2 separate regions of the Homo sapiens genome follow, and region 2 is linked to region 1. Evidence: fine-mapped expression QTL. Tissue or cell type: gastroesophageal junction. Region 1 holds a variant in brackets; the other region holds the start of a gene. All regions are shown on one strand. Distances are between the middles of the regions. Region 1 overlaps LOC105372853 (a long non-coding RNA gene). Region 2 holds the start of LINC01634 (long intergenic non-protein coding RNA 1634).

Region 1 (4,388 bases):
TATTGCAATATATGATGCAAACAAGACAGTCTCTGCTTTTTTTTTTTTTTTCTTTTTTTTGAGACAGGGTCTCACTCTGTTGCCCAGACTGGAGTAGTGTGCAGTAGTTCAATAATAGGTACAGCCTCCATCTCCTGGGCTCAAGTGATCCTCCCACCTCAGTCTCTTGAGTAGCTGGGACTACAGGTGCCTGCTACCAGGCCCAGCTAATTTTTGTATTCTTTTTGGTAGAGACAGAGTTCTGCCATGTTTCCCAGGCTGGTCTTGAACTCCTGGGCTCAAGTGTCCCACCTGCCTTGGCCTCTGAAAGTGCTGGGATTACAGGCGTGAGCCACCATGCCTGCTGGTCTCTGCTTTTTGAATGCTGACATGCTGACCTTAGATGTGGGGTAGGGATGATCAGACCAAGTATTCTGAATTATGGACTTGGAATTTGCAAAGTCCAGTGATGAGAAAGAACTTGACTTGTTTTATTTATTTATTTATTTAGAGACAGAGTTTCACTCTTGTCGCCCAGGCTGGAGTGCAATGGCGTGATCTCGGCTGACTGCAACCTCCACCTCCCAAGTTCAAGCGATTCTCCTGCCTCAGCCTCCCAAGTAGCTGGGATTACAGACGTCTACCACCACGTCCGGATAATTGTTGTATTTTCAGTAGAGACGGGTTTCACCATATTGGCCAGGCTGGTCTCAAACTCCTGACCTCAGGTGATCCACCCGCCTTGGCCTCCCAAAGTGTTGGGATTACGGGCGTGAGCCACCGTGCCTGGCCAACTTGTTTAGAAAAGTGGGACTGAGGTTAATATCAGGAGTCTAGAGTTCAAGAGTGGACAGCCAGGCAGGACTGATCTTGTCAAGATTTTGATGTGGTTGGATGATATGATCAACAGATCACAGAGAACCCTAGGGCATTGCAATGCTTAGGCTGGGCCATTTGAGCGCCAGCACCTCGCTATGAAACACACTGAGCTGGAGAGTCAATGATACAAGAGCTTAAGGATTTTATAAAACATGACTACATACAGCACTTCATATTAGTCAATGTTCTTTCACAGTAATGATTGCATTTTATCCTTATAACCCAGCAAGGTCAGTATAGTGGGCATTTCCTTATGCTAATACCTCTGTTCTTCACCACCCCACACCCTTTTCCTTGATAAAGATTCTGGGGATTGGAGAGGAAGTAACTTGTTCTGCACTAACCGGAAAAAGAACCTAGACATTCTGACCCAGCCTAGGGCTCTCTCCACTACTTCAGACGCCTCTTTAGCTCGACTCTCCCCTCCAACCCTGCTTTTTCTGCACAGCCCAGTGAGTTCTTGCTTGCTGAAAGAACCTGGCCCAGCCAGGAAAAAGGACACCGGGAGCTTCACATATGTTTGTCTTCAGAGGCAGCGCTCGTGTGCCACCAACATAAATCTGATAGGCACTGAGATCTCGGTCTTCCCTTTTATTCTGGGGAGGGAATTGTGGAGCTTAGGCTAGACCATCCCTGCCACCGGCCAACTCACTGAATCGGTTCCTCTGGGAGGAGCACTGGGAGTTGGGGTGATGTGGTATAGCCGAATTGATGTCCCATTTCTGGGTTAGGATCTGGCCCTGCCATTTACTAGCTTGTAGTGTCAGGCAAATTTCTTAACTTTTCTGAGCTTCAGTCTAATGGCAATAGCCAGGATTATTGTTAAGATTAAGCCTGCACCATAAGCTTCATTCCTTGAATAGCTAGTGTTACAAATGGTGAGCTGTTAGCCCCAGGGAGTTCGGAAGTCTCTGCGGTTTTATCCGGGGGTCCTGGTATTGCCCGCTCTGAGGATGGGTCAGGCTCTGTGGAGATTCCCCACTTAACCTACCGCATCCTGAACACTGGAGGCTGTTGTTCTGGGATCCAAAGCTGCTCCACTGTTGCCCCAGGGCATCCTGACCTAGTGAATTGCCTCCTTTAGAAGCACTACTTTCCCATCCTCCCAGACTAGCTAATTTACTGCTGATGAAAATAGCTTTAACGGAACTTGGGTCCCAGGAAGGCCACCGCTGGCCTAGAGCATAGAATTCCAGGGCAGAAAGGGATTCCAGGGGTCTCACACTCACTCCCAACTCTGATTCCAAGGAGACAATCCCCACAGTGGAAATCTGTTAAAACACTGAGTAAATCAAGATGGTTCCTGCTAATATCTGACTAACGTTTTCTTCCAGCTGTACGTTCCCAACCTGCCTGAACGAGGCCTCTAGGACGGCA[G/A]CGTCCAATCACATCTCCCCTCTGCTTTCCTAACTGAATGTTGATATTCTCAGCCTATTTTGCTTGTACAAGTCCCGTCTGTCTGCCTGCCTGCCTGCCTGCCTGCCTGCCTTCCTTCCTTCCTTCCTTCCTTCCTTCCTTCCTTCCTTCCTTCCTTCCTTCTTCCTTCCTTCCTTCCTTCTTTCCTTCCCTCCCTCCCTCCCTCCCTCTCTCTTTCTTTTTTTCTTTCGACAGAGTCTCGCTCTGTTGCCCAGGCTGGAGTGCAGTGGCGCAATCTCGGCTCATTGCAAGCTCCGCCTCCTGGGTTCACGCCATTCTCCTGCCTCAGCCTCCTGAGTAGCCTACAGGCGCCCGCCACCACGCCCAGCTAAATTTTTGTATTTTTAGTAGAGACGGGGTTTCACCATGTTAGCCAGGATGGTCTCAATCTCCTGACCTAACGATCCGCCTGCCTCGGCCTCCCACAGTGCTGGGATTACAGGTGTGAGCCACCGCACCCAGCCAAGTCCCGTTTTTCAAACTCAATTTGCTTCTTGCCTCCAGACCCTCTCTGAGGTTTTGTGTTTCCTCTCCCATTCAGGTGGGGGCTGGGGTGGGAGGCGGGCAGAGGCTGATCCAGCAGTTGGAAAGGGTGCAGCCCAGGTTCTCCTAACTCAGGAAGAGAAGGGGGGAAAGGAAGGCCTTATCCAAGGATATAGCACGTTCTCTTTGGTAAACCAGAGAGACACTTTTGTTTTCTTAGCCACAGAGTGCCCAAGGGGAGCCTCAGGGTACAGGGTGGCAGAGGTGGGAATAAGGACTGGGTGGGGGAGGCCAAGGGAGGGCCTAGAGTGCGGGTGCAGGAGTCAACACTCCAGGACGCAGATGTGCTTGATAAGACAGGTGACTGGCCTGGAAGGTTGAGATCACAGCCTTACTTCTTTATTTTACCTCGCTAGTGGAGACCTGGTTACTCACGAGGCCAAGGGATCCTGATCATTCATTCAAGAAATATTCACTGCCTAGCTAGGTAAGGAGTTAGAAATAAAATGCGCAGCAAAGCCCTGCAGGAGTTAATAGTTTGGTGTGGGATTTGCTTCCGTAAGCAGACGGTGAGCAGGCTGCAATGCAGGTAAGTACAGGGTGCCACAGGAAGATAGACAAGTAGCTCGTCACCCACCTGACAGAGGCAAGGAGAGATTTAGGAAAATCTTCCCAGAAGGGGTGATAATTGAGCTAAACTCTGGAGGGTTAAAAGGGGTCAGCCTGTCCAGGAAGCAGAGAGGGGCTTCCAAGAAGAAGGAGTCATTTGCTTAAAGTCCCAGGTTGAGAGAGGGCAGAGTGGGCCAGGACAGTGGCAGGGTGGGCTTTATGACTGCAGCTGTGGGTATGAGGAGGAGACTAGGAGTGAGAAATGAGGCCAGGAAGGCAGGCAGGGGCTGGGTCCTGAGGGACATGGGCAAGCTGCTTCCAGGAGATGGATGAAATGAGCGTGTGCTCCTTGAAGGAGTCTTCCTGGCTGTGCCCACCAACGGGCAGGCAGTGGCGGCCCCCGTCGGTCAAAGCTGTGTCATCGCTCAGAGGCTTGCTAAGCTGCAAGTCATGCAGGTGCAGGCAGAGGCGGGGGCAGGAGGGCAGAGGTTCTTAGCCAGCATGATGGGGCACAGCTATGTAATTCTCGGGTGGTTTGGGGATAGGAGGATTCTTTCCACACACTCTGACGCTGTCACTCCAAAGTCAGGCATTTCTTCACTTGACAATGGGCACCTGTAGGATGGATGGGGCATGGCAGCCATATCTGCAGCTGTATGCCAGTTGCATTTGGTGCAGAGAGCAGAGGGCAACACTGCTCTAAATTCAATGGCTCTGGAAAGGAGGTGGGGTGAGAGGCAGGAGAGGTGATGACATTGGCATGTGGGTCCTGGCTCCTAAATACCGTGGCTCGCTTTACAATCTGCCGGGTCTTGCATGTCCAAGGAAGTACGCAACCTCGATGTGATGGTCTAAGAGAATATTTTATTGCTACTTGCTATTATTGAGAATTGAAAATGGATCTGACTGGGCAGAGAACACACCAATCCCATCACATCATCCCTGCCACCCATACAGCAGTCTGCTGCTCCCTCTTCATACAAAGTCCTTTATCTGTTTGGCTGCTGGGGTTTGAGAGAAGC
Region 2 (4,388 bases), 35 kb before region 1:
CTCACTTGATACTGACCCTGCTGATGGCCTCAGCCTCAGTCCTGCTATAGAAAAGCTGCCCTGTCCCTCTGATCCTCACGTTTTAATCTCAGCATTTACTGCTGATGGGATGATTGGGTAAATTGAAAAACTTGTCAGAGAGGGTTAGGCTTTGATGGGTGGGGTAGGGGAGACCTCTCAGGAAAAGCAACTAGAGTAATAGAACTGTCAAAGGTTGGCAATAAGGCTGTGTGATCTCGCTGATGGTTCTCCAAGATGAAATGAAACCTAATGCTGCTTTCTTCTTCCTTGAGAGAAGATAGCAAAGAGGGCAGAAGGTGAGGGCTGGGGGCTCAATGTCAACTCTAGAATCTCTTTAAACCTTTTCAGCGTTTGTTTTTTTCCCCACTGAGAAAGTTAAGTGTGATGGGAGGGAATCTAGTCCTTTTGACTATTTTAAAATGTACCTTCTAAAATCAGATCAGGCCAAAAGGTTTTTTACTCTTGAATAAATTTAGGGCTAAAGGCTGTTGGAAAATTAATAGGAGTGGATTCAACGTGGCAATAGATCTTTTATAAATTCTCTTATTGAGTGAATTTCTGAATACTGAAAACAGTGTTTAGCACCTATTGCATTAAAGTGAGTATAAGACTAATACTTTGTATTAGTGACTTTGGCTGGGTGCGGTGGCTCATGCCTGTAATCCTAGCACTTTGGGAGGCCGAGGCGGGTGGATCACGAGGTCAAGAGATCAAGACCATCCTGGCCAACATGGTGAAACCCCATCTCTACTAAAAATACAAAAATTAGCCAGGTGCGGTGGCGTGTGCCTGTAGTTCCAGCTACCCGGGAGGCTGAGACAGGAGAATTGCTTGAACCTGGGAGGAGGAGGCTGCAGTGAGCTGAGATCACACCACTGCATCCCAGCCTAGGCGACACAGTGAGACTCTGTCTCAGAAAAAAAAAAAAGACTAATATTTCATCAAGCAGTTTTAGATAACGTACTGAATTTAGGAACAAATTTACTGCAATTAAATTGACAAAATACCTGTAAATTTTGCAGCTTTTCTCCCCCACAGACTAGCACTATGCAAAAATTGAATGTTTAATTATGAATGAAGGTATCTACCATGTTGTTCACAGAGTTTAATTACCTGAAGACAATGCCTGAGGTTTAAAGTTAAAATACATATATTTGAACATAGAACATTTACTTGACCACTTTATACCATGAGTGAAAGGGGTCAGTCTATGCTTTTTTCCCCTTCCCTGTCTTTTACCAGCTGGCCATTTTATTTGCATAAGGTACACTGAAATTCCTAGAGACCTACGAGGTCATTCTCTGCTCCCTTGCTTTCCTCAGATGAGGAAACAGAGCTCTACAGAGGTTAACTGTCTAGTTCAAGGTCACTCTGCATCTCATTAGTAATCTTGAAGTCTGAAGGCAGGCTGCCTACATTTGTAAATGACAGAAAGCTACCATAGCTAGCTAATCAAAAATAGATGAAAATTTAGTTATAATCTATAGTTGACAGGATAAACATTAAGAATGAGCTTGTAATCCCAGCTACTCCGGAGGCTGAGGCAGAAGGATCCCTTAAGATTAGCAGTTTGATCAGCCTGGGTGACATAGCGAGAACCTGTTATTTTATTTTACTTTTTTAAAGAGTCAGGGTCTCATTCTGTCATCCAGGCTGGAGTGGAGTGCAGTGGTGCAATCATAGCTCTGCAGCCTTGAACTCCTGGCTCAAGGGATCCTCTCACCTCAGCCTCCCGAGTAGCTAGGATTACAGGTGTGCACTAGGACTCCCAGCTCAAGACCCTGTCTCTAGGAAAAAAAAATAGAAATTAGCCAGGTGTGGTGGTGCACAAGAGTGGACCCCTTAAGCCTAGGAGTTTGAGGCTACATTGAGCTATGATTGCATCACTGCACTCCAGCCTGGGCAATGGAGTGGGAGCCTGTCTCTAAAAGAGAAAGAAAGGTCTTCCTAGAGTTTTTGATAGACTAAAACCACTAAGTTCAGATTTAGCATGAATAAATATAATGGCCTGCACTTTTGGTTGAAAATATATATTGCACAGTAGAGGCCTGACTTGTGCATGTGAAACAGAAGATAGGGAGTTAAGTCAACCAACAGGTTCAGTAAGAGCCCCACGTGGGAAGCAGCTGGTGAAACAGCTAATGAAACCTCAGAGCTATATTAGTAGACAGAGAGTAACCTGATGTTTCACGGAGTAACTGGCCCAGGAATCTTGGTGCTGGCCAGGTCATATTTATACCACTCTGTAGCACAAGGTTCCAGGAGGGACCTTGATAAACTAGAGTTCATCCACCAGAGGAGGAGGCTGCAGGCCTTGGGCACTGCTCAGCAGGATGAGGGGCCACTGCAGTTGAGCATGTCTAGCCTGGAGTCTTCTGAAGAACATGATTATTGACTTTATGTATAGGAATGGCTGCCAATGAAGAAGAGGTACGTGGCTTGTTCTATGTCACTCCGCAGGGCAGAAGGAGGATCATTAGGGATAAGGATGAATGGGAGATAGATTTCTGTTCAAAGAATTTTCCAAAATTGCGGACTCACCACAGAATGGTCTGGAAGTCTGCTTAGGGAAATGCTGGGATCCAAGCATCTGAGAGCTTATAGGATATCTACTTTGGGACAGGAGTTGACTCCATGACTTCCAAGTTCCCTTTAACTCAAAGATTCTGTGAGTCTTCATCATGGATCTTTCTTTCTTTATTCCTTCCTTCCTTTCTTTTTCTTTTCTTTCTTTCTTTTTTCTTTCTTCTTTCTTTTTCTTTCTTTCTTCTTTCTCTCTTCTTTCTTCTTTCTTTTTTCTTCTTTTTTTCTCATTTTTCTTCTGTCTCTTTTCTTTCTTTTTTCTTTCTCTCTTCTTTCTCTCTTTCTTTCTTTCACAAAGTCTCACTCTGTTGCCCAGACTGGAGTGCAGTGGTATAATCACAGCTCATTGCAGCCTAGAGCTCTCACCTCAGCTCCCTGGGTAGCTGGGACTACAGGCACATGACGCCACACCTGGCTAATGTGTGGTGTGTGTGTGTGTGTGTGTGTGTGTGTATTTTGTAGAGACAGAGTCTCACAATATTGCCCAGGCTGCTCTCGAACTCCTGGGCTCAAGCAAACCACCCACCTTGGCCTCCCAAAGTGCTGGGATTCCAGGTGTGAGCCACCATGCCCAGTCAGGTTATTTTTCTTGTACTGCTAGTTCATGCCAGTAGAAAAGGTTTTAGTGCTTTTGACCTTCTGATTCCCAAAACGATTCAAATGATTTGTCATTAGAATATGTATCTTAAAAAAGAAACAAATAAAACTCGTAATAAAAAATTGAATCCAGGCCAGACACAGTGGCTCACACCTGTAATCCCAGCACTTTGTGAGGCCGAGGCAGATAGATTGCTTGAGCCCAGGAGTTCAAGACCAATCTGGCAACATGGCAAAACCCCGTCTCTACCAAAAAATTAGCCAGTCTCATAACCAGATCTCAAAAGTAAATAAATAATTGAATCCAGAAGGACTCCTGAGAAAAAGTGAGTTGCTTCAGAATTTGGGCACTGAATTTAAATATAAGCTTTGCTCAAAGTCTGGGCAAAGAGAGAAATGTGTGAAGTTATAGATTCTTACTGTTCAAGAAGAAGAAGATTATACTTTCATCTGTATCAGTATTGACCTTGTCTTCCCAAAGGGATTATAAGATCCTTAACAGCAGGGAACAAATCTTTTACTTCATTTTAACTCCTATCATCATTAGACTATTTTATGCAGATAGGTGCTCAGTGTGTCTTGAATAATTTGACTTTCTTAAAGATGAAATAGGAAAATATTTTTGCTTTATTTTTTTCCTGGAGTCTGATAGAAAGATTAATGGGAGATGGATTTCTTCCAGCCTGCTGAAGCCGGAAGTCACAGTTCTGAAACTACATTATATTATTCCAATGAGGTAGCCTAAACTTGGCCTATAGAAAGCCCCAGGCTGCCATAATTGCATCTACTGGTACCTCTTCCTCTTTGCAGAACAGGTTTCTGTCTTAAATGCATTTGTGTTGCATTTTTTTTTTTTTTGAGATGGAGTTTGGCTCTTGCAGCCAGGCTGGAGTGCAATGGCGCCATCTTGGCTCACTGCAACCTCTGCCTCCCAGGTTCCATTGATTCTTCTGCCTCAGCCTCCCAAGTAGCTGGAACTAGAGGTGGGTGCCACCACGCCCAGCTAATTTTTGTATTTTTAGTAGAGACGGGGTTTCACCATGTTGGCCAGGCTGGTCTCAAACTCCCGACCTCAGGTGATCCACCCACCTCGGCCTCCCAAAGTGCTGGAATTATAGGCATGAGCCACGGCACCCAGCTGTGTTGCATATTATTGCCACTCTAGCACCCTGACTTTCCACTGCAGC

Evidence for each region. PIP is the estimated chance that this variant, and not a neighbour inherited with it, causes the effect.
Region 2: it holds the start of LINC01634, and the variant in region 1 is the best candidate, but not a certain one, in a credible set for the expression of LINC01634 in gastroesophageal junction (GTEx, PIP 0.79).

The regions. Positions count from the first base shown.
Region 1 is chr22:18,061,666-18,066,053 of GRCh38, forward strand. All of the region lies in intron 1 of LOC105372853 (a long non-coding RNA gene), which reads left to right. Among named protein-coding and RNA genes, the nearest start is that of PEX26, 14 kb to the right of the region's middle. RefSeq lists an enhancer at 1-72 and a silencer at 3,770-3,859. The variant G/A (reference allele first, on the strand shown) is at 2,236.
Region 2 is chr22:18,027,104-18,031,491 of GRCh38, forward strand. It overlaps LINC01634 (long intergenic non-protein coding RNA 1634), which reads left to right and starts at 2,282. Exons shown (of 2, transcript NR_024417.1): 1 at 2,282-2,451. RefSeq lists enhancers at 2,262-2,331, 2,372-2,471.